Regions from separate parts of the Homo sapiens genome. Here region 2 is reported to be linked to region 1. The links are microRNA targets in miRTarBase. Many come from high-throughput screens and were not tested one by one. Region 1 holds a microRNA gene; the other region holds the end of a gene's coding sequence.
The links. The annotated mature microRNA hsa-miR-6889-5p reads UCGGGGAGUCUGGGGUCCGGAAU and lies in region 1 at 1,429-1,451, shown strand. An mRNA with a match to its seed (bases 2 to 7 or 8) in the 3' UTR can be bound and repressed. Matches are read on the target gene's strand: a 7mer-m8 pairs with bases 2 to 8, a 7mer-A1 pairs with bases 2 to 7 and ends in A, and an 8mer does both.

Region 2: the mRNA of ZNF787 is a reported target of hsa-miR-6889-5p. Seed matches in the 3' UTR shown: 7mer-m8 at 772-778 and 7mer-m8 at 1,117-1,123.

Annotation. Positions count from the first base shown.
Region 1 is chr22:41,251,081-41,254,473 of GRCh38, reverse strand. MIR6889 (microRNA 6889) reads left to right here and starts at 1,424; the gene lies at 1,424-1,482. RANGAP1 (Ran GTPase activating protein 1) reads left to right here. Exons shown (of 16, transcript NM_002883.4): 11 at 1-166; 12 at 1,483-1,602; 13 at 3,365-3,393.
Region 2 is chr19:56,085,280-56,088,672 of GRCh38, reverse strand. It overlaps ZNF787 (zinc finger protein 787), which reads left to right. Exons shown (of 3, transcript NM_001002836.4): 3 at 1-1,307. The coding sequence ends at 650. Among named protein-coding and RNA genes, the nearest start is that of LINC01864, 20 kb to the right of the region's middle. RefSeq lists enhancers at 1,726-2,325, 2,661-3,160, 3,161-3,393.

The sequences.
Region 1 (3,393 bases):
GGAGGAGGAAGGAGAAGAGGAAGAAGAGGAAGCAGAAGAAGAGGAGGAGGAAGATGAGGAAGAGGAGGAAGAAGAGGAGGAGGAGGAGGAAGAAGAGCCTCAGCAGCGAGGGCAGGGAGAGAAGTCAGCCACGCCCTCACGGAAGATTCTGGACCCTAACACTGGGGTGAGTTTCTATCATCTGCCACAATCAGAGCCCTGGTCCTGAGAACGTGAAATCCCGAGGCACTTTCACAATGGGGTAGGGGGTGTCTCCTTAAGCACAGTAGCCACAAACATTTTTTTTTGATTGCATGATATTGAGTAAAAAAAGGAAAATGGTCCCAGTGTAATGATAGTTACCTATATTTCTTTTTTTTTTTTTTGAGATGGAGTCTCACTCTTGTCACCCAGGCTGGAGTGCAGTGGTGTGATCTCGGCTCACTGCAACCTCTGCCTCCCGGGTTCAAGTGATTCTTATGCCTCAGCCTCCCAAACAGCTGGGATTACAGATGCTTGCCACCACGCCTGGCTAATTTTTGTATCTTTAGTAGAGCCGGGGTTTCGCCATATTGGCCAGGCTGGTCTTGAACTTCTGACCTCAGGTGATCCACCCTCCTCGACCTCCCAAAGTGCTGGGATTACAGGCATTGAGCCACCGGGCCCAGCCATAGTTACCTATATTTCTATTTACCCCAATATAAATGTCTATTTACAGGTAGCAGTGCTGCTGCATTATGTATATTATAAGATATGCATAAGGGTTTCTGAAAGAATAAACAAATAAGCATAAATAGAAATTCTGATTTTTTTTTTCCCCACCCACCAGAGGATTGTCTTGGTGACCCTTAGGAACCACTCCCCCATTCCTGGGATGGTGGCTGGGCCATGACCTGGCTTGGGCACTTGGTGTCCCTTGTCTGGCCCGGGGCTGCATCAGGGCTGCCACACCTCCAGTTCATTCATTTGCATTCCCTGTCAGGTTCCTAAGTAAAGCTCCTGGAGAACTTGGCTCTGGACAAGGACTCCCCATGCTTACGCTGAATTGGGCTGCTTCTCTGGTTTATGGAATCAATTAAACAAATGGCTAGGTTCGCCTCAATTCAGTTTTTCCTCTGGGCACCTCTGGTGCTAGCAGGGCTTACCCAGGCTGGACTGTAGTTCTACGGGGACCCACTTTAGCCCCCATGTGCCTCCGTAGTCATTTCTGGGGCACTGCATGTCATGACGAGGATCCACTTGGCCGTAGCAGGTTTTTTGAGTCCCAGGGAGGTAGCTTCCCCCTCACCCCAAAGGCTCCTGGACCAAGAGCCATCCAGGGCCAGCATCTCTGGGTGATATTGATAGATGGGAAATGCAGCTGAGTGGGAGGAAGAATTCTAGACTTTGAGCCTAGATGGGCTGGAGTGAAGGGTGGATGTGCTGGGTGTGGGGATGGGCACAGCTGTGTCGGGGAGTCTGGGGTCCGGAATTCTCCAGAGCCTCTGTGCCCCTACTTCCCAGGAGCCAGCTCCCGTGCTGTCCTCCCCACCTCCTGCAGACGTCTCCACCTTCCTGGCTTTTCCCTCTCCAGAGAAGCTGCTGCGCCTAGGGCCCAAGAGCTCCGTGCTGATAGCCCAGCAGGTAATAACCACCCCTCGACCCCCACGCTGTACGTGCTGTGGCTTCTGGAGCTGTTAGAGAAAAGGGACGAACAGCTCAGAGACCTGGGGGTGCGACGCTGTCAGCTGGGGGCAGGGAGGCTTGGCCTGCCACTGTTACAACACGCGCAAATGTCCAGGGTATTTATAAGCCTCCAGGGGTTGCAAATGTTCCCTCCCCACTCAGCCTACAGAAAGTACAGCCCGCCAGTTCCCATGCTGACTGGGGTTAGGGAATTTCCTTAAGAGCCTTGCATGTGCCCACCCCCTCCTTGGCTTCTCTCTGCGTGTTCCGTCAGCCCAGCTGCTTCGAGAACAACTCTGTTGCCCAGGGCTCCTTTGGAAGTGACGTGCCTATTGCAGGATGGGTGCCCTCACTCCAGCCTCACTTGTTGGTTGGCTCATTCATTCATTCATAGATGATCTTCGGGGCATCCATTTTCTGCCAGGCACTGCATTTGGGCATGATTTTATTTAACCCTCTTGGCAACATGAAATGTAGACTCTGCTGCCCTTACTTTATTTTATTATTTATTTATTTATTTATTTTTTTGAGATGGAGTCTCACTCTGTCGCCCAGGCTGGAGTGCAGTGGCACGATCTCGGCTCACTGCAGACTCTGCCTCCTGGGTTCAAGCAATTCTCCTGCCTCAGCCTCCCGCGCCCAGCTAATTTTTGTATTTTTTAGTAGAGACGAGGTTTCACCACGTTGGCCAGGCTGGTCTCAAACTCCTGACCTCATGATCCACCCACCTCGGCCTCCCAAAGTGCTAGGGTTACAGGCATGAGCCACCGTGCCCGGCCAGCCCTTATTTTGTAGATAAGAAAGCGGAGGCTCGGAGGTTACAGAGAAATAAAATGGGCCCACTCTCAGAGTTGGCTTAACATTTCGGCCAATTGCTTTGTTAGGTTTTGCCTGTATTCTTTGTTTCTTTTAACATGATAAATCAGATGTTGTAAGCCTTTCTGTGGCCTATCACTTTGGTGTAGCACCATTCATCACTTTCTTGTGCCCATAAAACTCTTCTCAGGATTTTTATTGCAATGTGTGGATGTAGCACTTAAAAGCCAGGCACTGTTTCTGACGTTTTTTCCACTTTTCCCTGTTGTGAGGTTGAGGTAAACGTTTCTGCATGTGAGTATTGTCTACATGCTAGATTATTTCTTCAAGTTCAATTACAAGATGGGGACCACTGGATCCCTGAAATGATTTTTTTTTTTTTTTTTCTGAGACAATGTTTTGCTTTGTGACTCCGGCTGGAGTGCAGTGGTGCAATCATGGCTCAGTGCAACCTCGACCTCCTGGGCTCAAGCAGTCCTCCTGCCTCAGCCTCCCAAGTAGCTGAGACTATAGGCACACACCACCAACCTTGGCTAATTTTTTTCCTTTTTGTTGACATGGGGTCTTGCTATGTTGCCTAGGCTGGTCTCAGACTTTTCGCCTCAAGCCATCCTCCCACCTCAGCCTCCCAAAGTGCTGGGGTTACAGGCATGAGCCGCCACACCCGGCTGGGATGATTTTTCATCCTTGTTCATTCACTCATTCATTCCCTCTCTATGCTGCATATGTGCTTGCTGCAGGCCAAATCCAAGCCAGACTCTGAAGGGACAGCATGGGGTAAGGCAGGACCTGTTCTTGCCCGCCAGGGGCCTTTGTACTGCCCAGGCCTCTCCTAGCTAGCGTCAGAGCCCAGGTACCTCTCCACCACGTGCCACAGGCCAACCATTGTCTCTTTTGTCCTCAGACTGACACGTCTGACCCCGAGAAGGTGGT
Region 2 (3,393 bases), not on the chromosome of region 1:
AGCACCGGCGCTCGCACAGCGGCCTCAAGCCCTTCGTGTGCCCGCGCTGCGGCCGCGGCTTCAGCCAGCCCAAGAGCCTCGCGCGTCACCTGCGGCTGCACCCGGAGCTGTCGGGGCCTGGCGTGGCGGCCAAGGTGCTGGCGGCTAGCGTCCGGCGGGCCAAGGGGCCCGAAGAGGCGGTGGCGGCGGACGGCGAGATCGCCATCCCCGTGGGCGATGGCGAGGGCATCATCGTGGTGGGCGCGCCGGGCGAGGGGGCCGCGGCCGCGGCAGCCATGGCGGGCGCGGGGGCAAAGGCCGCGGGGCCCCGGTCGCGGCGCGCCCCGGCCCCCAAGCCGTACGTGTGTCTGGAGTGCGGGAAGGGCTTCGGGCACGGGGCCGGGCTCCTGGCGCACCAGCGGGCCCAGCACGGGGACGGGCTCGGGGCGGCGGGGGGCGAGGAGCCGGCCCACATCTGCGTGGAGTGCGGGGAGGGCTTCGTGCAGGGCGCCGCGCTCCGGAGACACAAGAAGATCCACGCGGTGGGCGCGCCCTCGGTCTGCAGCAGCTGCGGACAGAGCTACTACCGCGCGGGCGGGGAGGAGGAGGACGACGACGACGAGGCCGCGGGCGGGCGGTGCCCCGAGTGCCGCGGTGGGGAGGGCCGGTAGGGGAGGGGCCCGGGGGGGGGGGCGGGCAGGGCCCCTCGGGCTTGGCGGGAGCGACGACGTGCAAGACCAAGAGACCCAGGGAGAAGCGGACGGGGTGCGATGGACCCCGCGGCATCCCCGGCTCCCCGCCCTCCTCTGTCCCTGCGCCGTCCGTGGGGGGGCACTGGGGCGTATTAGGGCCCGTTCACTTCTCCGCCTCGAGACTCTGCCCCCTCAGCCTGGCCCGCCCTTCCTAAGTTATCGGCCTGCGAGCCGGAGAGACAATGGAGAGAACTGCAGAGGCCGAGTGGCGACCAGGCCCCAAGCGGAAGGCCATTTTCCCTGCTCTTCCTCAGTTGTCCGGGGCGGGGGTGGGGGGTGCTGCGAGGAATGGAGAAACCAGGCCCTTTAGAGGATCCCAGAGAGGGAAGAGAACCAGGGGCCCTTTTCTCTTTTAGAATTTTCTTTTAATCAGCCCACCTTTTGACTCCCCGCCCGCCCCAATCCATTATTTTTTTCTGCCTTCCGGGTCCCATCCTTAGAGCTCGAGTCGTTCCTTCCCCTCCTGGATTCCGGGTAGCAGAGGCAGCGCCGCAGGAGGCGGGTGCCCGTTTGTCCCAGGCCTGGGCGTGGTGGAGGAAGGGGTGCTGGAACAATAAACGGCACTATCCAAATGTCCCCCTCTGCGTGGTTCTTGAGTCCGGGAGGGAGAAGGGCAAGAGGGGTAAACGGAGGCTCTCGCCGGGGCATCAGCAGAGCGTCAGCCGCGCCCCGGGAGTGGCCCGTTGGGTCGCCCGCGGAGGGCTCTAGGCAGGGGGGCCTGTCCGCGGATATCCTCACTATGGTGCGGGCACTCACAGGGCCTGGGAGCTGCTTGTAGATGGGGCAGGGCGGACTGGTCAGGGCCAGGCCTGCCCGCTGCAGGGGAAGGAGCCCCCACGGCTTCTACCACCCTCTCACAGGGGCGGCTGGCTTCCTCCACTCCTATCGTGTGGCCCCCGCCCCTAACCCCAAAAGCACCCTCCTCCTGCCTCCAGCTTCTGGGGGAGACTCTGACTGCAAAGGGCGCACGTCCCCCTACCTGGGTCGTTCACGGGGCTGGTCCCGTGGTTGCGGCTCCCTGCGAAGGAGGCTGGGAGATGAGGTCCCGGCGGCTGCCGCTCCGGGGACAGGACCCCCCGCCCCCTACGGGAGGAGGATGGTGCGCTCAGCTGTCTCTGCTGCAGGGGCCAGGCAGACGAGCCAGCCAGGGGCTGGGGGAGAGGGCGGGTATGCCACAGTCCAGCCGAGCGCTTAGGGCATTTCAGGCAGTGCGCGTGCCCGAGGGGCTTGGTCCGGTAGAGCCGCTGCAGCCGCCCTGCCAGGTGAGCGCTGTTGTTCATGATCAGAAGGGGGCTCGACCATGGCGACTGGTTTCCTGGACCCACAGCCCAGGTCCTGAGGACCCATGTTCCTGGGGCCTTGGGAGGCCGCAGTGAGGGTCCCAAAGGGGTATTTTCAACCTGGCTGAAGGCTGCGATTACTCAGGAGCGATTGGAGGCGGCAAGCTGCAGGCGTCTTTGACTTGGGGGTTTCATAGTAGAGGGGGACTTGAAGGAGAAATTCGGATTTCCAGTTAGAGCCCTTAATCTGCCCTTTCACACCCTGATGTGCTTGAGGAGGGTCCTGGGGCCTCATCTGGAGGCAGGGGGTTTAGAAACCAGGGCCACTGATGGTCTACAGATCCTGGAGGATTTGTTAGAGGACTAGGGAGTGATTGTGGATCAAAAAAGCGTGTTCTCAAGTGGCCAGAGCCTTGCTTAGATAATTGGTATTGCATGTCAGTTTTTGAAATTTCAGGTCACTCGAAAGGAGGGGGTGAACCTTGGCAGTTCAGAGTGGGCTGGGTTAGCAAAGACTGAGGAAGCATTGCTCACTTCTCCTAGGGTCCTTCTGTGGAGCTCTGGCCTTGGGCACTTCTGGAGGCCTGGGAGGATGGGAGGTGCCCTGTCTGGTAGAATTGGCAGCTCGGTGCCCCATAAGTCGGGCACACTGAGTCTCGGGTCAGCCTCTTCTACCTGCTCCAGTATATGGTGGCAGGAGCTGACACCTATAGCAAGAAAGATTCAGGGCAAGTTTCCACCCTGCCCCTTAAGGCTGTGTGACCCTGGGCAAGTGGACTAACCTCTCTGACCCTTGGCTTCCTGCCCTGTGGAAAGGAGAGCTTGCCTGCCTGCCTTGTATGACTGTGTGTGGAGGGGGGAATCCCCAAGCCATGTGTTAACTCACTGGAGCTGCCCTCCCAGGCATGAGCAAAGATGCAGGGGCGAGGAGCCAGGCTCAAATCCCAGCTCTGCACTACTCATCCCACTTTGTAATACAGAACTGAGCGAGCTCACATGACCACCTTGACATCAGCCTGCACCGGACCCAACACCTGACCTGTGCTTTGGTGTCACACGCTGTCCGTTACTGATTCATGCACTCAGGTAGTCATTGCCCACCCCTCACTCACTCATTCTACAAATGTGTTTTGGGCAGCAGCTCCGTGCCCAGTAGGCACGGCGTGGGTCCCAGGTAAAGAAAGGAACATGGGTTCTTGTGGCACTTGCCGTCGGCCCTGTAGTTCACCTGCATTGGAGCTGCTCACCCACGGCAAGGTGAGGCTAGGCGGCCGCTCCATGCTCACAAACCCACCCTGGCAGTGACCGCAGAAGTTCCTTCGGCCCCCATTCCTCTCATGCTCACTTTGGTGGAGGGCACGCCCAGACTCGTTCACGCCCCT